3 separate regions of the Homo sapiens genome follow, and regions 2 and 3 are each linked to region 1. The links come from fine-mapping of genetic effects on gene expression. A gene starts in region 1. Each other region holds a variant in brackets. All regions are shown on one strand. Distances are between the middles of the regions. Region 1 holds the start of RCC2 (regulator of chromosome condensation 2). Region 2 overlaps PADI6 (peptidyl arginine deiminase 6). Region 3 has its middle 24 kb from the start of RCC2.

The links. PIP is the estimated chance that this variant, and not a neighbour inherited with it, causes the effect. A credible set is the group of variants that fine-mapping cannot tell apart.
Region 2: its variant is the best candidate, but not a certain one, in a credible set for the expression of RCC2 in whole blood (TOPMed, PIP 0.89).
Region 3: its variant is the best candidate, but not a certain one, in a credible set for the expression of RCC2 in whole blood (INTERVAL, PIP 0.58).

What each region holds. Positions count from the first base shown.
Region 1 is chr1:17,435,971-17,444,147 of GRCh38, forward strand. RCC2 (regulator of chromosome condensation 2) reads right to left here and starts at 3,707. Exons shown (of 13, transcript NM_018715.4): 1 at 3,575-3,707; 2 at 2,260-2,552. The coding sequence starts at 2,544. It overlaps LOC124903862 (a long non-coding RNA gene), which reads right to left and starts at 5,573. Exons shown (of 2, transcript XR_007065508.1): 1 at 5,488-5,573; 2 at 4,166-5,083. RefSeq lists silencers at 2,388-2,487, 3,807-3,946.
Region 2 is chr1:17,380,456-17,388,627 of GRCh38, forward strand. PADI6 (peptidyl arginine deiminase 6) reads left to right here. Exons shown (of 16, transcript NM_207421.4): 5 at 592-709; 6 at 1,512-1,637; 7 at 7,926-8,104. Among named protein-coding and RNA genes, the nearest start is that of PADI6, 12 kb to the left of the region's middle. RefSeq lists an enhancer at 811-2,010. The variant C/G (reference allele first, on the strand shown) is at 3,681.
Region 3 is chr1:17,459,611-17,467,787 of GRCh38, forward strand. No RefSeq gene overlaps it. Among named protein-coding and RNA genes, the nearest start is that of RCC2, 24 kb to the left of the region's middle. RefSeq lists an enhancer at 507-1,314. The variant G/A (reference allele first, on the strand shown) is at 4,353.

The DNA of each region.
Region 1 (8,177 bases):
AGGCATAAAGGGGCATCATATGCTGAACCCTCAGCCTCCCAGGTGCTCTGATTCTAGAACAGCACCGACAGCCCAAAGGATGGGCATCATGGGCCCCTGTTGGTTTTAAGTGGATAGAGAAAGGAAGATGTAGCTTTTAGAGTCCTGCTTATACACATATGTAAAATAATAACGTATTTATGTGTATAAACAGGAACTTAAAAGCTGCAATGGACTGCTGTTTACTCACATTAAGACTTACAAACATGCAACCCAACACAGGGCTCGCGCCTGTCATCCCAGCACTTTGGAAGGAGGCTGAGGCAGGCAGATCACTTGAGGCCAGCAGTTTGAGACCAGCCTGGCCAACATGGTAAAACCCAGCCTCTACAAAAAGTACAAAAATTATTCGGGTGTGGTGGAACACACTTGTAATCCCAGCTGCTCGAGAGGCTGATCAGCACACAAAAATCACTTGAACCTGAGAGGCGGAGGTTGCAGTGAGCTGAGATCGTGCCACTGCACTCCAGCCTGGCCATAGAGGGAGACTCTGCCTCAAAAAAAAAAGACTAACAAATGTGCCATTTCCATTGACAAAGCAGCTTCAAGCAGCACAGCTGGAGACAGAGGTGGGCCAGGGAGAGCCAGTGTCCCTCACACACTCCCTGTCTCTACCTCCTTGGGTCAATCTCAGCATGGGGTAAGGATCTTTTGCTCTGATGGCAAAATTCAGCGTTCCAACAGTCTGGAGCTGTACAGCTGATAACTGCAGTCTTGGATGTCTAAACACAATCTTGCTTTTGGAAACTCACTCAAAATAGGATACAGGAGACGCGGAAGCTCACCTGGCCTTTCTTTTTAGTTTCATCCTAACATACTGTGTTCGGAGGGCAAATGTCTGGAGTCTGGCACAGCAGACTAGACGTCAAAGGAAAACAGTTCCTGTGTTCCAGTTTCTCAATACTTTGGCCATTGTCTAGTCTAGCCTGATCCAAGACCCCGGGCAAGACCTTTTGACAGCTTTTGACGGGCTCTCCTCCACTGCCTAACATGTTAACCCTTTCACCCAGAAGGCACTTTTACAAAGCATATTCCCATGTGCAATTTGCAGGGACATCAGGAGTTACAGCATTTGGAGATCCAGTTCCATCCATGACTTTGGACAAGGCCCTCGAATTCTGTGCCCCAGTTTCCCTATCTATAAAACGGACGTAGAAAATGTGTTATTAGACACTGCCTGCGCTTCTCTGGAGGAAAGCACTCTGCTGTTAACCCTTAAACACCCTTAGGAGATGGGCACTTATGGAAGGAAAAAAACCTCTCCGGGTGTCAGGCTCTACACCCCAGGTGGAAGTTCTTGCTCTCTGGGGGTTATCTGAGAATCTGGTGAAAACTTAGACCCTCTTCTGAAAAACATATCCCACACCACACCAAACTTAAAGAAAGTTCTGTGGGGGTGGGGAGATGCTGTGGCGGCAGATGCCGGGTTCAGATCTCCGGCTCTGCAGGCTTTTTCGGGAACGTTAACTTGAGTCAGCCACGACCTTAATTAAGATTTGAGAAAACAGAAGCCCGCCCAGGACCCTAGGAGATGCTTCTTCACTTGGGGGGGCTACAACAGAGCCCTCGCGAGCATCCTGCAGCTTCGGACCACCGGCGGCAAACAAAGCCCGAGCACCGCTCAGCCGGGGGGCTTCCCCGACCTCGGGGGAGGGCTCTGCGGAGCATGCGCGGCGGCCGTCAGGCCCCGCCCCCCCCGGGCGCCGGAGCCGAGGCGGCGGGAACCTCAAAGCCCCGGCGCAAACGGCCGCTCCCCGCAGAGCGCCGGCCGCCCCCTCCCCGCGGCGCCCGGGCGCAGCGGCGGCCACGGACGTGTGGGGCCCGCTGGCCGCCCCCTCTTCCAGGCCGGGCGAACTTACCGAGGTCCCCTTTCCCGGGGCGGGGGGGGAGGGGCGCAGAGGGAGCTGTGGGGGCGGGGCCATGACCCCCTCGTGCGGGCTTCGGCCGCCCCTCCCCCGCCGCGGGCCCGGGCGCGCGCCCCAACCGCCAACCGCCCGCGCGGTGCCCGGGGTCGGGTAGGCCGCGGGCCGCGCGCCCCGTACCGAGCCCTTTTGTTGCGCGGAGGCGGAGGCAATGATTCAGCCCGCGGCCTGCGCCGGCCCGGCCGCCGGGAGGGAGCGTGACGCGAGGCGGCCCCCGGCTGGAACGCGCGCCGTGCCGCGTCGCTGAGCCCGCCGGCCCCGGCCCTGCGCCCACCCGTCTACCCTGACCCTCACTCACGACGCGCTCCTTGGTGTGCTCGGGTTCGGTGATGACCACGGCCGCGCCGCCCGCCTTGCCTGCTGTCGCCGGCCGCGCCGCGCGCTTGCCCCCGCCGGGGGCCCCGTCGAGCTCCAGGCCGTCCTCGTCGCCGCTGCTGCCGCCGCCGCTGCTGCTACTGCAGCGCTCGGGCCGCTCGCGCTTCCTGCCCGCCGGGCCGCCGCGTTTCCTGGGCCCGGCGCGGGCAGTGCCGTTGCCCGAGCTCGGCTCCTCCCAGGCCGCCGCCGCCGCCTTCTTCCTGGGCATGGTCGCGGCTGGAGGGAGACACGGGGCAGCGGCGCACAATGGACGGGTTATAAACTGCGCGGGGGGAGGGGAGCGGAGACGAGCCACCCGGCCTCCACTTCCTCCTCTGCCCTCCCCAAAGTGGCGGCCGCAGGGTGGGCGGAGAGGGGGCGAGTTGGGAGAGGAAATCGCGCCCCTCCCTGGCCCCGGCGCGGCTCCTTCGGGGAATCCCGCAGGGCAGCCGGGAGCCCCAGAGGCAATCCCCTGGAGGGAGAATTGAGACCCCCGGCCTATCCGTAAGTTAGGTTTGCCCACAAAGCATCACAGTTGCAACCTCGCCCCCCAAAAGTAAAGGGAAAGTAAAACCAGCCTCCAGTCCCCTAGATTTTCATTAAAGAAGGCTTCGGGACACTTCCAGGATTCCCCCTTGGCACCTGGGTGGTAAGGGAGCCCCTGCTCCCCGGCTACCCCACCTGCTGCTTTTGTCTCCGCAGTCTCCCCCCAAACCCACTCATGGCATTTAATGCAACGCTCTCCCCCACCCCGCATCAGCCCTGGACCCCCGTTCGGCCCCAGCTCAGGGGTGCCGACCTCGGGCTCTAGTTAGCCGAATCCCTACGGCGGACTGCCCCCGGCGACGGGGGAAGAGCCCGAAGAAAGCTGGACCCCAGCCCCAAACACCTGCTCGCACAGACACGAAAAATAAAAACTTTAATGGTGCCCAACTCTCTCCCAGCCCCCTTGCCGGCCGTGCGGCCCGGCCGGTCTCCGATTCGACTGCAAAGTGTCCAGGGCCGCCGCCAGCTCCCCGGCGTCCCTGCGCTCTCCCCTGTCTGCTTTTTTTTTTTTTTTTAATTGATTTTGAACAATGGGATCTCTGTCTGTCTCCGATTAAACCACGTGGATCCGCCTTCCTTCCTCTTTTTATTCCTTCAATCACCCAGCCCCCCTCCCCCAGGTTTTTTTTTAACCTTTTCTCTTTAAAAAAAGGAAAAAAAAAAAAACTTTCCCAGACCCCACAAACTGATCACTGTCGATTTTCAGACCCTACCTGGTTGGAGTGATGAGAAACCGGAGAGAAAAAAGGAAGAGAAGCAACTAAAAGACGGATCGGAGGGCTTTTTTTTTTCCGGCCCAGACGAGGGCTCCAGCCCACTCACCAGATACACTTAAAATGTAAATACGAGCTTCCAGAACAAATGCTACAACACAAAACAGAAACACATGTGCGGCCGCGCGGCAAGCGAGCGCGCGGCGGGGCGGGAGGCGCGGGGCGCGGGGCGCGCGCGCCCCCTGCCGGCCGGCGGACCCGTTGCCGGCGCCCCCGCCCCGCCCGGCCTGGCCCTGCCCTGCCCACCCGAGCCTGCGCCGCGCGCCGCGCGCCTCGCCGCCCGCCTCGGCTCCGCTGCTCCTGCGCCTTTCGCGGGCCCGCGAGCGCGCTTTGGGCCTTCCACGCAGTGCGGCCTGCGCGTCAGGGACTTCTTTGCGGCTTAGGAGGATGTTGGATTGTTTTTCCTGGGCACGTCTAGACAGGTCACATGAGGACACTCGCTGGAAAATAGTTACTTCGCTCACGCAGCAGCCAACAAGGGACGTGCCCTAATTGAGTGATTGGAATGAAAGATGAATACAATTTGAATAATTTTTTCCTGTGCAGAGAGAAGCTGAGTTTTATTTGCCTGTGGATGTGTCCTCAGTATGTAACAAGGTGCTGTGACACGGAAGAATCACATAAAGGTTTGCTGTATTAGTGAATTAATTCATAATTAATTTGAGGGCCGTGGAGGCACTGGAAGCTGGCTTTGAGGGGAACTTTTTCATTTTTTGCCAAATATTTACTGAGCCCCCGGTACATGCAAGACCCACAGTGCCCGGGGCTGCAGAGCCAGTGAACAAGGTTTCCACCCCAGTGGAACGCACAGCCTAACGGAAAGACAGATCAGTAAACAAGTAATTACAACAGTGGTAAGCTTTACAAAGTGATGCCTGTGTAGGAACATTATGGCGAGGGGATTTATCCTAGTCCAGGGCCAGGGAAGGCATTCAGGTGGAAAGTTATGCTGAACAACTTAAAGGATGAATAAGACCCGATGAAAGGGGGCAGGAAAAGTATTCCAGGCCAGGTGGAGTGAACGGGACGCTCCACATTTCGAGATCTTGAGAGACACCTCCTGGGAGGGAAGCTGTCTGGTGGGGCTGGGGTGAGAAGAGCCAAGAGGCTGGGTTCTGAGGAGGTAGGCAGGGGTGCGAGGGCCTGCATAGACCCTAGTGAACCGCAGTGAGGCTTGATCTCGTTCGCGTGTCCTGGGACGGGTGAAAAAAGCCTTGCTTGCTTCCTACCGGTCTCCACCCTCCACCTCTCCACCCCACTTCCATTACGATCTCACCGTCACTTGCTCTCCTCTCAAAGCTTTTCTCCTGCTTCTTTTTTCCTGAGGCGTACCGCACAAGGAAGTTCCTTCTTCAGGCAACTTCTTGAAAACGCATAAAGTTCTAGGATTTTTGTGATTCATTCATTCATTGTTAGTGCAAGAAACAGGACTGGGAAGCATCAAGTGTCCTGTAAAGGAAGACAGAGAAACCAAGAGGCCCAAATCTAAGGTATTTGATCAAAGTCAAAAGTCTGTGTGTCAAGAGAGCTGAGAGTGCTTATGTAAAAGAACTTTGGAAATGAGAAATCAACTGGTACGTTTCAGAGATTTTCAGAAAAGTCAAGATGGAATAGAAGCACCCTTTGAAAGCCTATTCTTAATAGACCTGCATTTAAAAAGATTTTTTAGAGGTTAAACTTTGACGCTTTGATATAAAGCATAAGTAGAACCAACCAGAAAAGAATTTCGCCTAAATATGCCATCAAGTCCCCTTCAGGAAATGGCATGCTGATGCTTGTCAGCCGAGGCGGGTGGCTGGGTGTTTATCCTCTAAACACCCTGTGTGGCCAATTAGGAACACCACTGACAGTACCTTTAGATTTCAGTCTGCAAGTCTTTTCCTTTTTTCTCCTGCCCCTTTATAATGCTTTTTGCCAGCTTAAAAGACTCATGCCTCAGACACACTGATGCAATGAGACGCTAATATCATATTGCATCATCTGATCCTAGGTGTGGTGCTCCTGAAACTGGTTTTTCTTGAGGTTATGCTGCAGTAGAAAAGCACTTTGGGTATAACACCCTGGAACTGGCCCTACTTGTCAGAAGACAAAAGTAATTTTTGCAACTCCATGCCTCAATTCCACACCACTATTCTCCCAGGGAAAGCCTGCGTGACTCTCCCGGCTGGAATTGGGTGTGCAACAGACATTCATCAGTTAGGCGTGTCATGCTGCCACTTATGTAACAAATGTTACATAGTGAGGTGCACCTACAGGCAAGCTGAAAATGACACTTCCTCCTTCAAACTGTGCTTGGAATTTCACCTCGCTTCTAATTGAGCAAATTCTCCAGGGACAGGATGGTTTGGTGCAAAACCGGGAGAGGGGAAGGGAAAGAAGGTGGCTGAGATTTCTCTGACACTTTGAGGCACAGGTGTCTGGCACTGTGCTGAGCATTTTACACCCAGAATTTTGGAAATGTGGCTGCAAGTGCCAGCCTGCCGTCACTCTTTAACCTCATCTTCAGCAAAATCATATTGCAAGTTAGATTCAGCTACGCTTAAGTTCTTTTCCAGGGGTGAGGTGTGATTTTTTCTTTCTTTTTTTTTTTTTTTTTTTTATTTTTTTAGATAGAATCTTGCTCCTCCAGCACCCAGGCTGAAGGGTGATGGTATGATCCCAGCTTACTGCAGCCTCTACCTTCCTTGCTCAAGCGATCCTCTCGCTTCAGCCTCCCAAGTAGCTGAGACCACAGGCATGGACAGCTACACTTGGCTAAATTTTTTTTCTTTTTTAATGTTTTGTAGAGACAAGGTCTCTCTCTGTTGCCCAGGCTGGTCTCGAGTGGTCCTCCCACCTCAGCCTCCCAAAGTTGCGGGATTATAGGGGTGAGCCACTGTGCACAGCCTCAGAAGTATAATTCATTTTTTTTTTTCTTTTGAGGTGGGGTCTCGCACTGTCACCCGGGCTGGAGTGCAGTGGTGGCAACCTCCACCTCCCAGGTTCAAGCAGTCTCCTGCCTCAGCCTCCCAAGTAGCTGGGATTACAGGCGCATACCACCACGCCTAGCTAATTTTGTATTTTTAGTAGAGACGGGGTTTCACCATGTTGGCCAGGCTGGTCTTGAACTTCTGACCTCGTGATTTGCCCGCCTTCGCCTCCCAAAGTGCTAGGATTACAGGCGTGAGCCACTGTGCCCAGCCTCAGAAGTGTAATTCTATTCAACTTGGCTACAGAAAGCTACACCTGTACTTGAAAGATTAATTTTCTGATCCAGTGTCTATAAAAATGAAACCAGTGATCCTGGGAGTGATGCGCTAACCAATGGAAACGATTCTTTCTCTTTTTTTTTTTTTGGAAACTGGGTCTCACTCTGTCACCTAGGCTGGACTGTAGTGGCGCCATCTTGGCTCACTACAGCCTCGACCTCCTGGGGTCAAACAGTTCTCCTGCCTCAGCCACCCTAGTAGCTGAGACTGTAGACGTGCACCTCCACGCCCAGCTAATTTTTAAAATTTTTTTGTGGAGACAAGGTCTCACTATGTTCCCCAGGCTGGTCTCAAACTCCTGACCTCAAGCAATCCTTTTGCCTTGGCCTCCCACAGTGCTAGGATTATAGGCATGTGTCACTGTGCCTGGCTTCTTTTTACTCTTTTCAATGTGACTACCACAAAATTTAATATTACATATTAAGTTTTTTGTAGCTCATATGTTATTCCTGTTGGACATCACAGCCTTCGAAAGCATAGCTGGAAAACCAGTAATTTCCTCCAGACCCCACTCTTTCTGCATCTGTTCTCTAGTTTCTCCTCTCTGTAAAATGGCAAGATAGAGTTTGGGCTAAATTTCTCTTGAGGTTACTTCTGGATTTCGTATTCCCTGATTCTGAGGACAGTAGTCAGCGGGGAATCCCTGTCATAGTGTTTGGAGAGATGTTTTCTGGGAGATGCAGATCCGGTCGTCCTATTTCTGCCAATGAGTCATGAAATTTTCAAACGCAGAGTCTTTAAATATTGTAGTTGGACCTTTAAGTTCTCTGTCTGTGAGGCATGCCTGGGCTTGGCTTGTGGCTTCTTCATCTTTGTTTTTCTAGCAAGCACCCAGAGCAGCCCGGCGTGTAGTAAGCTGTCAATATATGTTTGTTCATCTAAATAATATCCAGCGGAAGAACTGAAGCCCAGGGAGATGCTGAGGCCTCCTGAGGCCACACAGCTGGCAGATAGGATAGCCAGGAAGTGTACAGGCATCTGCATCAGTAGGAGGATTGTCAGAAACACAGAATCTGGCCAGGCGTGGTGGTACACGCCTGTAATCCCAGCACTTTGGGAGGCTGAGGCAGGACGATTGCTTGAGCCCAGGAGTTGGAGACCAGCCTGGACAACATGGTGAGACCCCATCTCTACAAAAATTAGAAAAAAATTAGCCAGCCGCGGCCAGGCGCAGTGGCTCACGCCTGTAATCCCAGCACTTTGGGAGGCCGAGGCGGGCAGATCACTTGAGGTCAGGAGTTCGAAACCAGCCTGGCCAACATGGTGAAACTCCCGTCTCTGCTAAAATATACAAA
Region 2 (8,172 bases), 56 kb before region 1:
CTCCCAGGTTCACGCCATTCTCCTGCCTCAGCCTGCCGAGTAGCTGGGACTCTAGGTGCCTGCCACCATGCCTGGCTAGTTTTTTTTGTATTTTTAGTAGAGACGAGGTTTCACTGTGTTAGCCAGGATGGTCTCGAAATCCTGATCTCCAGTGGTCCACCTGCCTCGGCCTCCCGAAGTACTGGGATCAGAACTGATTAAATTTCTAGCTCACTAAAAAAAAAACCAGAATGTCTGGCAACTCTAGGCTCATGTCCTACCCTGGTTGTGGAGTCTCCTAGATGAGAGGATTAGCCGCTGCTGCCAGGTGGCACGTCTCTTTTCCAATTTGCCTCGGTCCCTGATTCTCTGACTCTGAAATATGAGGTAAGTAACTGGTAACCCCGAACCTAGCTTCTTTCCCTTCCTCTTAGCCTCCTTACCTGACATGACCTTCCTGTGCCTACAGATTCTTGACCTCACCAGTCCTGTTCCATGGGTCCCTGTACCCTGGAGAAAGGCTTGGCTGGGCCCCTCTGCTATGAGGTGCATCCGAGAAACAGAAGATTTATTTGGCTCCTTCCTGAGCCAATGTTCCCATCTCATTTGCAGAAAAAATGGATCTGGGGTCCCAGCGGTTGGGGTGCCATCCTGCTTGTGAATTGCAACCCTGCTGATGTGGGCCAGCAACTTGAGGACAAGAAAACCAAGAAAGTGATCTTTTCAGAGGGTAGGACCTCAGACTGTCTCTGCCTTTCCTTCTTGGTCTCTTTGCTGCCCTGCTTCTCAGCAAATGGATTCCAGACTAATTTTCTCCACCCCACCCCCGACACCCTCTTCCCCAGTCCCCATGCCTGGGCTGATCAAACCTTTTGTCCTGAGTTGTAGATGTATAATTGGGTAAGAGAAGTCACATAGCCCCATGCAAAGAGCATGGGTGGTTACTTGTTTCCTAGCTGTGAACTTGAGCACACTAACTTCCCTGATCTTGTTTCCCTATTTGTAAAATGGGGATGATGCAGTTGGCCTCCCAACTATATCAGTTGGTTGACAAGACTAAATGAAGACAATAGGGGTATATGCGCTGCTTTCTAAAAAGCCTCTCATAGTCTGGGCCAGGAACCTTGGACTGTCTTGGGTAAAATTCGCCTTGGATCCTGACTTGCGGTTGGGACCAGGGTTCTGGGTCTTAGCAGTAGAATGGAATGTCTTGTTTCCTACTGAGACTGGAAACAAGACTGGAAACAAGGTGAACCTTCACTGAACTGATCGAGGTAGGCCCTGTTCTGTTTGTGGGGGACCATGGGATAAATCCCATCCTCCCTCAAAAGGAGGCCCTGAGGTTTGCAGCTTGCCTGTAGCCACCTAGAACAAGCAGTGAAATGGTAATTCTTCGGGCCTGGGCCCTAGCAAAAGGCAGGGGGTCCTTGGTGCTCTGTTCAAACTCCCGGCCCCTCTCTACTGCTCTTCCCTCCACCCCCAGAGTGCTGGCCTCCAGACATTCCTTAACCTTTGCTTTGTCTTTTGCCCAGAAATAACGAATCTGTCCCAGATGACTCTGAATGTCCAAGGCCCCAGCTGTATCTTAAAGAAATATCGGCTAGTCCTCCATACCTCCAAGGAAGAGTCGAAGAAGGCGAGAGTCTACTGGCCCCAAAGTGAGTGTTCTTGTGCCAGCTCCAGCTTTGCCTGCTCTCGACGTGCCAGGCAAGTTGTGCCCACACCTCCTCCCAGCAAGGTCCCCAGCAGAAGCCTGCTGGAGACCTAGAGCTGCAGATGAGAGGCTGTTGTGGCTGTACTTGTGTTTCCAGGATTCTCTGGCTGCCACCTTCCCCATAGGCTAAATCTGTACACATGGGTGAGTTATTGCACCTCTAAGCCACTTTCTCCACTTGTAAAATGGGGGTAGCTGTGCCTTCCCTGCAGGCTAGAAGAGAAGAGAGACATATCCACTGAAACAGTAGCTATTGCCTTACACAGAGTAGATCACATCTCCCAGTGACTCCTCTCAGGAGAATCCATCTTCACTCTAAACCAATGATCCACTATGTTAAATTTCCAGAAATCTGAGGCCAAAACCTCTAGAGCGGCAGCCACGGTAGCACCTGCATCCCAGCCACCACGCCATCCACCACCCATCTTCAGCCCTCCTCTCCTGGGAGGCAGGTAGCATACTCTATTCTATAGATGGAGGGCTGGTTAGGAGGTACACATGCCCAACTCCAGCAAAACAGCCTTGCACATCTTTTGACTTCCCTGAACTGGCTCAGGACTTGGCGTACCTCTAAATCTCTCATTGAGAGCTAGCTCTGCTTCTGGACGGACATGCCAGCATGCTTTCTTTGGGTTTTGTTTTGTTTTTCCCCTTTGAGTCAAGGTCTAGCTCTGTCACCCAGGCTGGAGTGCAGTAGTGTGATCACAGCTCACTGTAGACTAGACTCAGCTTCCTGGACTCAAGCAGTCCTCCTACCTCACACTCCCAAGGAGCTGGTATGACAGGTGTGTGCCACAACTGGCTAATTTGCTTTTCTTGTAGAGACGGGGTCTCACTTTGCCCAGACTGGTTTCAAACTCCCGGATGCAAACAATCCTCCTGCCTTGGCTTCCCAAAGTGCTGGGATTACAGGTGTGAGCTACTGCACCCGGCCCAACCTGCCACCTTGTCTTGTAAACCATGCTTAGCTTCAGCTACGCAACGCAGGGAGCTCTGTGGTCTATACTGTGCCTCTTCTCAGAGGGCACCATCTTTGTTGCCAGCATTGGAGAGTGTGCCCCTGCCACTTCCTGGTCTACACTCTGGGGCCTTGGCTCAGTCTCCTACTCCATCTCTTCTGCAGACCATAGATCTCAGCTGGATTTCAAAGTAGCCTGGGATTAGCCAGAAAAGGTAGCCCAGCTTGGACGTGGCCATCTTACACATGAGCTAGAGTGAGCCGAAGAAACCCAGGGGTCTAGGTCTGGTTCAGGCCACAAGGGCTACTCTGGCCCTGGGAGGCTACCAGTGCTGAAGTAGGTGGATTAGGCCAGGCAGGCCTTGGAGTCCGCCGGTTCATGTAGCTTGCTAAGGATGCCATACTTCATCATGTGGATCATAGCGAACTACCGGTTTCTTTATTGAAAAAGCTTATTCAGGCTGGGCGTGGTGGCTCATGCCTCTAATCCCAACATTTTGGGAGGCTGAGGCAGATGGATCACCTGAGGTCAGGAGTTCGAGAACAGCCTGGCCAACATGGCGAAACCCTGTCTCTACTAAAAATACAAAAATTGGCATGGTGGCGGGCATGCCCGCCAGCTACTCAGGAGGCTGAGGCAGGAGAATTGCTTGAACCCGAAAGGCAGAGGTTGCAGTGAGCCGAGATCATGCCACTGTACTCCAGCCTGAGTGAGACTCAAAAAAATAATTTTTTTAAAAAAACTTATTCAACAATCTAGGGGCTGAGCACGGGGCTTATGCCTATAATCCCAACACTTCGGGAGGCCAAGGCAGGCGGATCACCTGAGGTCAGGAGTTCGAGACCAGCCCGGCCAACATGGCAAAACCACATCTCTACTAAAAAATACAAAAGCTAGCTGGGCTTTGTGGCATATACCTATAATCCCAACTACTCAGGAGACCAAGGCAGGAGTGAACCTGGGAGGCAGAGGCTGCAGTGAGCCGACGTTGCACCACTGCACTCCAGCCTAGGTGACAGAGTGGGACT[C/G]TGTCTCAAAAAAAAAAACTTAAAAATCAGGGTAGGGCAACACAGCATGTTATGTTTTAACAAGCCTTCCAGGTGACTCTGAAACATGCTAAAGCTTGAACCACAAAAAGATACAGCAAAAGAGTCTGAAAAGTTTACAGAGGAATAGAAAGCCAGAATACAGGGTTCTAGAAACAGGCTGGGTGTGTTGGCTCACACCTGTAATCCCAGCACTTTGGGAGGCCAAGGCAGGAGGCTTACTTGGGCACAGGAGTTCAAGACCAGCCTTGGCAACACAGTGAGACCTTGACTCTGAGATAAGATTATTTTTATAAAGAAGCCTGGCCAGGCGTGGTGGTTCATGCCTTAATCCCAGCACTTTGAGTAGACCAAGACTGGTGGATCACTTTTGAGGTCAGGAGTTTGAGACCAGCCTGGCCAACATGGTTAAAACCATCTGCTAAAAATACCAAAATTAGCTAGGTGTGGTGGCTTTAGCTTGTAATCCTAGCTACTCAGGAGACTGAGGCGGGAGGATCATGTGAACCCGGGAGGCAGAGGCTGCAGTGAGCCGACATTGCACCACTGCACTCCAGTCTGGGCAAAGTAAGGCAGTGGCCAACCCTGGCAAATGCTGTGGGATAGACTAAGATGCCCAAGCCCATAGTAAAGTCACAATCCTCAGAATGGCAGTCATCAGTGACCCTGATAATAACAGTGAAAAGCCAGGTTGAAATGGGGAGGCACAGTAAATCTAGGCCACAGAAAGAATTCTCTCTCCGTAAAGGGAGATGTGTGGTGGTAATTACAGGGGCCAGCACGCAGTCGAGCGTGTCTGAAGCTGGTAGTACACGGGCAGATGTATAGATGGAACTGATCCAACAGGGGTGGGGAAATGGATCCTAGAGGAAGATCTGAGAAGTTTGCAGAGGAATAGAAAGCCAGAAGACAAGGTTCTAAACAGGCTGGGCGTGGTGGCTCACACCTGTAATCCCAGCACTTTGGGAGGCCAAGGCAGGAGGATCACCTTTAGGACTATGGAATACAGGTGAGTCTGTGGACAGGAATGAGACGATAGTGTTTGAGTAGTGTTGGTGGCTTGCTCTGAGGTCTGGTCGTAGCCTGAAATGAGGCCTTTTGGTGTGATGGTTTTCTCCAGCATCTCAGGTGCAAGAGTGAGCTTTAAAGACCTGGTGTGACCAGAATGGAGGTTTTCCAGGAAAGCAAACTAGAAAAAGGTGTGGGAGTGGACAGTGTGTATAAGAGAGGATGTAGTGATGGGTTTTTGGGCTCTGAGAAGGGTCAAAGGGAAGTGTGAGGATGGAGGGTGGGGATCGGTAGGAGGATCTGGGACTGAGGTTGGGGACTCGCTGGGGTGGGAGCATAGGTGAGCGAAACAGATCGGAAGGCATTGTCTGCCTTGGAGGTGGCATCTAGTCTGGGTTATGATCATTGTAATGGATGTCTAAGGTGGTATAGAACCCAGGTTCATTGAAATAAGGTCGTCGAAGAGAGATCAAAATGTCTAGATGTTCTAGTCTATTGTCAGATACCAGTGACACAACAGCAGTGGAGGGCAAGTATGCTAGAACAATCCACGAAGGATGGAGAGGATGACATCGTCGTCCCCAAAAGAAAGGGGTAGCTGGCATTATCTGATGGCCAGCACTTCACAGGAACTGGGATTCTTGAGGAATAGAGAAATGGCCGAGAAGTGCCAGTGAAGAACCAAGAAGGGTACCCACCTTCCTGTAAGTCCAGCAGTACATGGCAGGTAGGAAAAAGCTCAGCTCAAATCATCAGTATTTGCTCTGTGCCCTGAGGATCCAGCTCTGGAAGAATAAACCATGTTACCTGCTCTCAGAGCCTGCTACGACAGATGGACAGACAGTCGAGGACCCAGCAGAGGCTGGAGGGAGCCCTTTAATATGCCCCCAGGGTGGGTAGGGAGAGTTTGAGGTAGCTAAGGCCTCCTGGGCAGCTCTGTGAGGACTGAGGGCAGGGAGGGCCTTCCAGGTAGAGGCAGCTATTGTGTGTACTTGGGTCGCAGGGCTTCTGGCCTCCCCCATGCTTCTGTTTAATGGGGACAACAAATGCCTGCTTCAAAGGGTCCTGAGGATGTGAGCCCATGAGCCTGAAACACCTACCACAGCTCCTAGCAAAGATAGCCCACAGTGAAATGTTAGCTATGCTTCACAACAAACTATCTGTGAGAGGGGCCCCCAGAAGGTCAACCACAGGAGAGCCAGCCAGTAGGGGATTGTGGCAAACAGACTGTGACCCTCTCGCCCTCACTGCCTGGTGGTGAATCACCCTTGGGTGGAATGGCCACAGGGAGCCCAGGTCCCCAGAACAGGAGCAGGCCCTAGGTGTGTGGCACCTCTTGGGCTGCATGCCGTGGGCCTGCTGATGCTATCGCAGGTCAAGAGGGCTGTGTCTGCACTGGGAAGTTGCAGGGGTTCCTGGGGGAAGACTGCCTTGTCTGGTCTTGCCCCATGAGGCCTGGCTCAGGGCTGGTGAAGCATCTAGGTAGATGAGAAGCAGGAACTAGCACAGGAGTGGTCCCGGTGGGCCCAGTTCCCTCACAGCCAGCAGCAGGACTGAGGCTGGGCCTGTAACCAGCATCCCCAGGGCCTCCAAGGAGGGGCTGCTGCAGAACTGCAGAGTCCATCGGGAGGGCTGCTGGGGCTCTAACCCAGAGCAAGAGGCCGAGGACCCAGGGCAGTGCCTAACCAGGGGCAGCCACGGCCGCAGCTGCAGCCATCTGCTGGCACGTTGGAGGAGCTGGAGATGGAGGCAGCTGGCAGTGCCGTGCAGAAGGTCTGAGGATGCTACAGTTCCTGGATCTCTTGGGGTTCTAGTGGCCAAGGTAAATCTAGCTTAGGATCCCCTGAAATAAGTCACCTGGAATCTTGAGCAGGAACAGCCATCAGGCCTACAGCTGCCACATCGGGCACAGATAGAGGACAGGCCAGGAAAGAGGAAGTTCGAGTGACCCAGGTGGGAGAAGTCAGGGTCATTTCTGACCTAGAAAATGAATGGACTTGGGCTGGGCACAGTGGCTCACGACTGTAATCCTAGCACTTTGGGAGGCTGAGGCAGATGGATTGCCTGAGCTCAGGAGTTGGAGACTGGCCTGGGCAATGTGGTAAAACCCCATCTCTACTAAAAATACAAAAAACTAGCCGGGCATGGTGGTGCACACCTATAGTCCTAGCTACTCAGGAAGCTGAGGTACAAGAATTGCTTGAACCCAGGAGATGGAGGTTGAAGTGAGCCGAGATAGTGCCGCTACACTCTAGCCTGCTCAACAGAGCAGGACTCCACCTCAAAAAAGAAAAGGAGGGGGGGGGGCCAGGCGTGGTAGCTCACACCTGTAATCCCAGCACTTTGGGAGGTCCGAGGTAGGCAGATCACGAGGTCAGGAGATCAAGACCATCCTGTCTAACGAGACGGTGAAATCCCGTCTCTACTAAAAATACAAAAAATTAGCCAGGCGTGTGGTGGTAGGTGCCTGCAGTTCCAGCTACTCAGGAAGCTGAGGCAGAATGGCCAGAATCCAGGAGGCAAAGCTTACAGTGAGCTGAGATCACGCCACTACACTCCAGCCTGGGCGACAGAGCAAGACTCCCTCTCAAAAACACCTTTAGGATCTAATTAGCAAACGGACAACCACCACGTGTGGTCAACTTCCTTCTGATCTCTTCTGTGCATGGTTTTGTATTTAATGACCTAAAACTAGGAGACAGGCTTAACATGTATAATCATAAGAACACTTGGTTTCTTCAGAAAACTTGATGGAGGCATAATCCATCCAATAAATGGTTCTCACTGACCTTTCTAGCATCAGTAAGTGATTTTTTTCAGATGAGGCTGCTGAGCCCAGCCTGGGACAGTTTCTCACCTTTAGGACTCTGATATTATCGCAGGAGTTGGATTCATGGGCCAAAATGTAGAACCACCTACCCTGAGGCTTCACACCAGTCAGGAGCCTTGAAGGCATCATCACCTGAGCTCCAACTCCTGGCATGTAATAGGTCTTCAAGGAATACTGGTGAATAACTGGCCATTGCTTGTGTATGAACATCTGGTTGTCTACCAAGACCTGAATGCTAGAAACGGGGATGGCTGAGCCATTTCAGCTCCAGCCCTCCTGGAACTCACAGCCTTGCATCTGATATGAGGAATGAGCTGGTACCTTGACCATCAAATGTGACCGGCACCAGGTTACTTCAGTGGCTGGTCCATCCCTTCTTTCTCTCCTAGAAGACAACTCCAGTACCTTTGAGTTGGTGCTGGGGCCCGACCAGCACGCCTATACCTTGGCCCTCCTCGGGAACCACTTGAAGGAGACTTTCTACGTTGAAGCTATAGCATTCCCATCTGCCGAATTCTCAGGCCTCATCTCCTACTCTGTGTCCCTGGTGGAGGAGTCTCAAGACCCGGTATGTCCCCATAATAGATGGGTCCTCAGACTAGGATGCTCCGGTGGGGGAAAAGCCATCTCCCACAG
Region 3 (8,177 bases), 24 kb after region 1:
AAAGTTTTGATTCCCTATCACATGCTTCATAAATTACAATGTCATGAAATCTTCATAACAGCCAAGTCTGGGTAATGGGTATAATACCTTGGGGCAGGTATTATTATTGTTATCATAGCTTTTTTTTTTTTTTTTGAGGTGGAGTTTCACTCTTGTCTCCCAGGCTGGAGGCTGGAGTGCAATGGCGTAATCTCGGCTCACGGCAACCTCTGCCTCCCGGGTTCACACTATTCTCCTGCCTCAGCCTCCCAAGTTGCTGGGATTACAGGCGTGGGTCACCATGCCTGGCTAATTTTTATTTTTCCGAGACAGTCTCGCTCTGTCGCCCAGGCTGGAGTGCAATGGTGCGATCTCAGCTCACTGCAACCTCCACCTCCCAGGTTCAAGAGATTCTCCTGCCTCAGCCTCCCCAGTAGCTGGGACCACAGGTGTGCGCCACCACGCCCAGCTACTTTTTGTATTTTTAGTAGAGATGGGGTTTCACCATGTTGACCAGGCTGGTCTTGAACTCCTGACCTCAGGTGATCCACCCGCCTCGGCCTCCCAAAGTGCTGGGCTGATAGGTGTGAGCCACTCTGCCCGGCCTGTTTTTACCATTGCTATTTTATACGTGCTCAGAGAGATGACCTAAGTTCCCAGAAGTGACACACGGGAAAGCGGCAGAGCTGGATTCAACCCAGGCTTGTGGAATCCCAGAGCCTATGCCCTTCCCTTCGCTGTGTCACATCTTCCTCTAAGGACCCAGTGAAACCCAAGTTCTCTGGGTGTGATTCACTCCCTGGAGTCCTCCGCCATCCAGAGGGTGGGTTCCGGAGTTGCCTCCTTCTCTGCATCCCAATTGGATTCCTCAGAGCCACCGCCTTCCTCCTGCCCAGCTCAGTGCAGGGTGCTCCGGCGCCTGGCATCTGAAGGATGTGCAGGCAGTGGCGTGATAGTGAGTGGGAGGAGGAGCCTCTGATCATCCACCAAGTTCAAACCTGCTTTTCCTGGCATGACCCTCAGCTAGGCAGCCCGGACTCTCCAGATGCCAGCCTGGCCATGCCAGGGGCCAAGGAGGATGCTTCAGGCAAAATCCCCACATGCAAGATGCTGGCTTCCCAGGGCTCCTCCAGGGTGGCAGGTGACAGGCATGTACGCTAGGGAGGGGACATCGGAGCTCTTCAGCCAAGCAACTCTGTTCGGAGAAAAAAGAAAAACCTTCAAGTCCTCGGGAGTGCCTCAAAGCAGAAACCTCAACCTGAAATACAGACCTCATTCAACCTGGCCGTGAATCCTTGCCACACCTTGCATTAGAGAAAGGCTCCTTTCCAAACCATTTCATGTGTGTGTTAAAAACCATTTCTGGGCGGGGCGCGGTGGCTCACGCCGGATCGCCTGAGGTCGGGAGTTCCAGACCAGCCTGGTCAGCATGGTGAAACCCCGTCTCTACTAAAAATACAAAAATTAGCTGGGCGTGGTGGCAGGTGCCTATAATCCCAGCTACTCAGGAAGCTGAGGCAGGAGAGTCGCTTGAACCCTGGAGGTGGAGATTGCAGTGAGCCGAGATCGCGCCACTGCACTCCAGCCTGGGTGACAACAGAGTGAGACTCCATCTCAAAAAAAAAAAAAAAAAAAAGAAAGAAAGAAAGAGAAAGAAGGCCAGGCGCAGTGGCTCATGCCTGTAATCCGAGCACTTTGGGAGGCTGAGGCGGGTGGATCACGAGGTCGGGAGATTGAGACCATCCTGGCTAACACGGTGAAACCCCGTCTCCACTAAAAATACAAAAAATTCTCCAGGCATGGTGGCGGGCGCCTGTAGTCCCAGCTACCCCGGAGGCTGAGGCAGGAGAATGGCGTGAGCCTGGGAGATGGAGCTTGCAGCAAGCCAAGATCGTGCCACTGCACTCCAGCCTGGGCGACAGAGTGAGACTCCATCTCAAAAAAAAAAAAAAAATGAAAGAAAGAAAAGTCTGAATCGATGACTAAACAAATCACAGGACTTTTCAGTAGTTAGTATTTTTTTTTTCAGGCTAGATTCCCCAAAGTAGAATTTCTGGGGTAAAGGGCGTGACTTTTTAAATTTTATTTATTTATTTATTTTAAGATGGCGTCTTGCCCTGTCGCCCAGCCTGGAGTTCAGTGGCACCATCTCGGCTCACTGCAACCTCCACCTCCCAAGTTCAAGCGATTCTCCTGCCTCAGCCTCCGGAGTAGCTGGGATTACAGGCGCACACCACCACGCTCGGCTAATTTTTTGTATCTTTGGTAGAGATGGGGTTTCACCATATTGGCCAGGCTGGTCTCGAACTCCTGACCTCGTGATCAGCCCACCTCGGCCTCCCAAAGTGGTGGGATTACAGGTGTGAGCCACTACGCTCGGCCACGGACATGACTATTTTTAAGACTCTTGATGCAAATTGCACACCCAAAGAGCAGGTGGTGCTTCCTACCTGTCTAAAGCAGTGCACAGCAGGACCCTCTCAGGTCCTGACATCAGTGTTGCATTTAAAATTCCTAACACCTGTCCAGGTGCGGTGGTTCATGCTTTTAATTCCAGCACTTTGGGAGGCCGAGGCAGCAGATCACTTGAGGTCACGAGTTCGAGAGCAGTCTGGCCAACATGGTGAGAGCCCATCTCTACTAAAAATACAAAAATTAGCCAGGCGTGGGCCGGGGGCAGTGGCTCACGCCTGTAATCACAGCACTTTGGGAGGCCGAGGTGGGCGGATCACGAGGTCAGGAGATCGAGACCATCCTGGCTAACACGGTGAAACCCTGACTCTACTAAAAATACCAAAAATTAGCTGGGTGTGGTGGCGGGTGCCTGTAGTCCCAGCTACTCGGGAGGCTGAGGCAGGAGAATGGCGTGAACCCGGGAGGCGGAGGTTGCAGTGAGCCAAGATCGCGCCACTGCACTCTAGCCTGGGCAACAGAGCGACACTCTGTCTCAAAAAAAAAAAAAAAATTAGCCAGGCGTGGTAGCGGGCGCCTACAACTCCAACTACCCAGGAGGCTAAGGTGGGAGAATCACTTGAACCCAGAAGGCAGAGGTTGCAATGAGCCGAGATTGCACCACTGCACTCCAGCCTGGGCTACAGAGTGAGGCTCTAAATAAATAAATAAATAAATAAAATTTCTAACACAAACCACCCTGTAGATAAGTACACTCAGCATATCTTTATTGAACGCATGAAAGGAAGAAGGGTTTGTTGTGATTTTTCTTTTGAGACAGCGTCTCCTTCTGTCACCCAGGCTGGAGTACAGTGTTGCAATCATGGCTTACTGCAGCCTTGACCTCCTGGCCTCCTGGCTCAGTAGTTGGAATCACAGGCACACGCCACCACACCTAATTTTTACACATTTTTGTAGAGACGAGGTTTCACCTTGTTGCCCAGGTTGGTCTTGAACTCCTGGGCTCAAGCAATTCTCGCACCTTGGCTTCCCAAAGTGCTAGGAATACAGATGTCAGCCCCATGCCAGGCCCCCTTTTGCATATCTTAACTTTAACTTTGTTTGTTTGTTTGTTTTGAGATGGAGTTTCATTCTGTCACCCAGGCTGGAGTACAGTGGTGTGATCTAGGCTCACTGGCAACCTCTGCCTCCTGGGTTCAAGCCAGTCTCCTCTCTCAGCCTCCGAGTAGCTGGGATTACGGGTACGTGGCACCACACCTGGCTAATTTTTGTATTCTTAGTAGAGATAGGGTTTCACCATGTTGGCCAGGCTGGTCTCAAACTCCTGACCTCAGGTGATCTACCCACCTCGGCCTTTCAAAGTGCTGGGATTACAGGCGTGAGCCACAGCGCCCGACAAACTTCTTTATATATGCATGCCAACAAAGAGTCAGACCCTGTAAAATATTTGAAGAGATTTATTCTGAGCCAAATATGAGTGACCATGGCCCGTGACAAAAGCCCTCAGGAGGTCCTGAGATGTGTGCCCAAGGTGGCTGGAGTGCAAGTTGTTTTTATACATTTTTGAGAGACATGAGACACCAATTAAATACACTTAAGAACTACATTGGCTTGGTCTAGAAAGTTAGGACAACTCGAAGCAGGGCGGGGTTGCTTCCAGGCTATAGGTGAATTTAAACACTTTCTGGTTGACAATTGGTTGAATTTGTCCAAAGACCTGGGATTCATAGAAAGGGAATGTTCAGGATAAGATAAATACTGTGAGCCCAGGCACAGTGGCCCAATCCCAGCACTTTGGGAGGCCAAGGCAGGCAGATCACCTGAGGTCAGGAGTTTGAGACCAGCCTGGCCAACATGGAGAAACCCTGTCTCTATAAAAATACAAAATTAGCCGGGTGTGGTGTTACATGCCTGTAATCCCAGCTACTCGGGAGGCTGAGGCAGGAGAATCGCTTGAACTC[G/A]GGAGGTGGAGGTTGCGGTGAGCCGAGATGATGCCATTGCACTCCAGCCTGGGCAGCAAGAGCAAACCTCCATCTCAGGAAAAAAAAAAAAAAAGATAAATATTGTGGACACCAAAGTTCTTTTGAAGTCTTATAGTGGCTGCTTTTAGAGACAATAAATGGCAAATGTTTCCTATTCAGATCTTAGTTAATCTCTATAGGATTGTGAGGTTCTGGAAGAAAAAGATCTAGCTATGTTAATAGAGATTCTTTACAGATGCAAATTTTCCCTAGCAAGGAACAGCTTTGTAGGGACATTTCAAAATATGACAAAGAAACATGTTTTGGGGTAAAATATTTTGATGTTCTTCCTTGTCTCATAATGTTATGCCAGAGTCAGTCAGGTTGGAAAGTCAGTCACAATACCTAGGGTTAAATAAAACCCATCTGAAGAGAATTTATGATTTGTAGGGCATGGCTCCCCAGACCCCTTAGATAGGAATTTGGGCAAGATAAAAATCAGAGTTTAGGCCGGGCGCGGTGGCTCACGCCTGTAATCCCAGCACTTTGGGAGGCCGAGGCAAGCAGATCACGAGGTCAGGAGATCGAGACCATCCTGGCTAACATGGTGAAACCCCGTCTCTACTAAAAATACAAAAAATTAGCCGGGCGTGGTGGCGGGCACCTGTAATCCCAGCTACTCGGGAGGCTGAAGCAGGAGAATGGTGTGAACCCAGGAGGTGGAGCTTGCAGTGAGCTGAGATTGTGCCACTGCACTCCAGCCTGGGCGACAGAGCCAGACAACGTCTCAAAAAAAACAAAAACAAAAAATCAGAGTTTAGTCCTCATGCCTCACATATGTGCCCAGGAAGTGGGTACTCCTGAAATCCCCGTTTCACAGATGAGGAAACTATGGTGGAGTATGAGAGGCTTGGCCAGGGACAGTATAAGAACAGGCACAGGCCAGGTGCGGTGGCTCACGCCTGTCATCCCAGCACTTTGGGAAGCCAAGGTGGGTGGATCACCCGAGGTCAGGAGTTCAAGACCAGCTTGGCCAACATGGTGAAACCCTGTCTCTACTAAAAATACAAAAATTAGCTGGGGATGGTGGTGTGCACCTGTAATCCCAGCTACTTGGGAGGCTGAGGCAGGAGAATCGCTTGAACCTGGGAGGTGGAGGTTGCAGTGAGCTGAGATCACAACACTGCACTCAAAAATGGGCAACAAGAGAAAACTCCATCTCAAAAAAAAAAAAAAAAGAGAACAGGCACAGGTAGAGATGATTAAATAGCAGTGAGCGCTCGGAATCTTGAGGAAGAGAGAAGGAAGGTGGGTAGGGCGTGTACCCATCTTAGATTCTTTGGCTGGGACCCTATTCATTAGACTAACAAAAGACAGATTGGCAAGAGAAAAATAAACAGAAGTTGATTATGACACTTGTACATGGGAGTACTCAGAGGTAAGTGACTCAAGAGGGTGGTTAGAACTGGGGTTTATGTAGCAACTTAACAAAAGAAGAATACATTTTAGTGAAGTGAAAAGACGAAGGGAAAGCACTAGGGCAGCAAATCGTGAGAGGGTCAATATATGGGGGATGAATGGAAGATGGGAGCTAGGAGTGGAGTCGGTTAAGTCTACTCCTCTGGGCCCCAGGAAGTTTAGGGTCTGGAGGTGTCTCTGGGATCAACTTTTGTCCTTCCTGGTGGTTTTTTTTGCGGGGTGGGCACATTTATAAATTTATGTCTTGCTTTTTGGCAGCTACGGGAAGGGCAGAGAGCTTTTCTTCTTCTTTTTTTTTTTTTTTTTTTTGAGACGGAATCTTGCTCTTGTTGCCCAGGCTGGAGTGCAATGGTGCAATCTCAGCTCACTGCAACCTCCACCTCTCGGGTTCAAGCAGTTCGCCTGCCTCAGCCTCCCGAGTAGCTGGGATTACAGACCTGTGCCACCACGCCCGGCACATATTTGTATTTTTAGTAGAGATGGGTTTTCACCATGTTGGCCAGGCGGGTCTCTAACTCCTGACTTCCTGATCCACCCGCCTCGGCCTCCCAAAGTGCTGGGATTACAGGCGTGAGCCACCACACCTGGCCTGTGCCTGTTCTTATACTGTCCCTGGCCAAGCCTCTCATACATCATGAGCCACTGCGCCTGGCCTGCTTTTCTTTCTTTTTCTTTCTTTCTTTCTTTTTTTTTTTTTTTTTGAGATGAGTTTTGCTCTTGTTGCCCACGCTGGAGTGCAATGGTGCTATCTCGGCTCACTGCAACCTTCTCCTCCAGGGTTCAAGCGATTCTCCTACCTCAGCCTCTCGAGTAGCTGGGATTACAGGCACGTGCCACCACGCCCGGCTAATTTTGTATTTTTAGTAGAGACGGGATTACTCCATGTTGGTCAGGCTGGTCTCAAACTCCTGACCTCAGGTGATCCACCCGCCTTGGTCTCCCAAAGTGCTGGGATTACAGGTGGGAGCCACCGACCCTGGCAGAGAGAGCTTTTCTTCTATCTGCTTCTTCTCAGTTGCTTTCAGCTCAACAGGATCCTCATTGCAAAGTGGCATGTTTTGGGCTATTGTATCTGTCAACCTTCAGAGGAATCTGAGAGGCGGGGCCCAGAACAGGTGGGTGGGATTCGGGAGGGAAAGTGGATTTGCTCAGGTACAGGGGTAGGGAGCGCTGTCCCGTCTTCAAGATGTCATCCCCTGCCTTGCTGGAATCTTCCCCACACTGTTCCTGACTCAGGGGCCCAGTCCAGTCTTTTTTTTTTTTTTCTTTGGGACAGAGTCTTGCTCTGTCACTTAGCCTGGAGTGCAGTGTCATGATCTCCACTTACTGCAACCTCTGCCTCCAAGGTTCAGGCAATTCTCATGCCTCAGCCTCCCAAGCAGCTGGGACTACAGGTGTGCACCACCACGCCCAGCTAATTGTTGTATTTTTAAGTAGAGATGGAGTTTCGCCATGTTGGCCAGGCTGGTCTCGAACTTCTGACCTTAGATGATCTGCCTGCCTTGGCCTCCCAAAGTGCTGGGATTATAGGCATGGGCCACTGCACCTGGCCCTGGCTCCCATTTCTGAGCTACATTGAGCTACTGAACTTCTGTGCCTTATTTTCCCCTTCTGTAAAATGGGAATAACAAATTCTTGACCTCAGTCTTCTTCTAAGTATTAAATAATTTTTTTTTTTATTTTTAAATTTTTGCCAGGTGCAGTGGCTCACGCCTGTAATCCTAACACTTTGGGAGGCAGAGGCAGGTGGATCACCTGAAGACGCAAGATCGAGATCAGCCTGGCCAACATGGTGAAATCCCGTCTCTACTAAAAATACAAAAATTAGCTGGGTGTGGTGGTGCACACCTGTAATCCCAGCTACTTGGGAGGCTGAGGCAGGATAATTGCTTGAACCCGGGAGGTGGAGGTTGCACTGAGCTGAGATCCCGCCACTGCACTCCAGCCTGGGCAATAGAGTGAGACTCCATCTCAAATAATAATAATAATAATAATAGTAAATAATAATAATAATTTTTCAAGAATAGAGACGGGGTTTCTTCATGTTGCCCAGGCTAGTCTCGAACTCCTGAGCTCAAGCAATCCACCCGCCTCAGCCTCCCAAACTGATGAGACTACAGGCATCAGCCACCATGCCTGGCTTTAAGTATTAAGTAATATCTGTAATGCACTTCTCAGGCAGCCTGCCTGGCACACAAGAACCCATTCATGTGTCCCTTTGTAAATTCCATAACCAGCTCCTCCAACCTGTGAGAAAACTTGCCAACCGTACTCTCAAAGCAGATATGTTGGGTTTTCCTGGCATCTTGTGAGCACACTTTATTGTAAAAAAACAAAAACAGAATG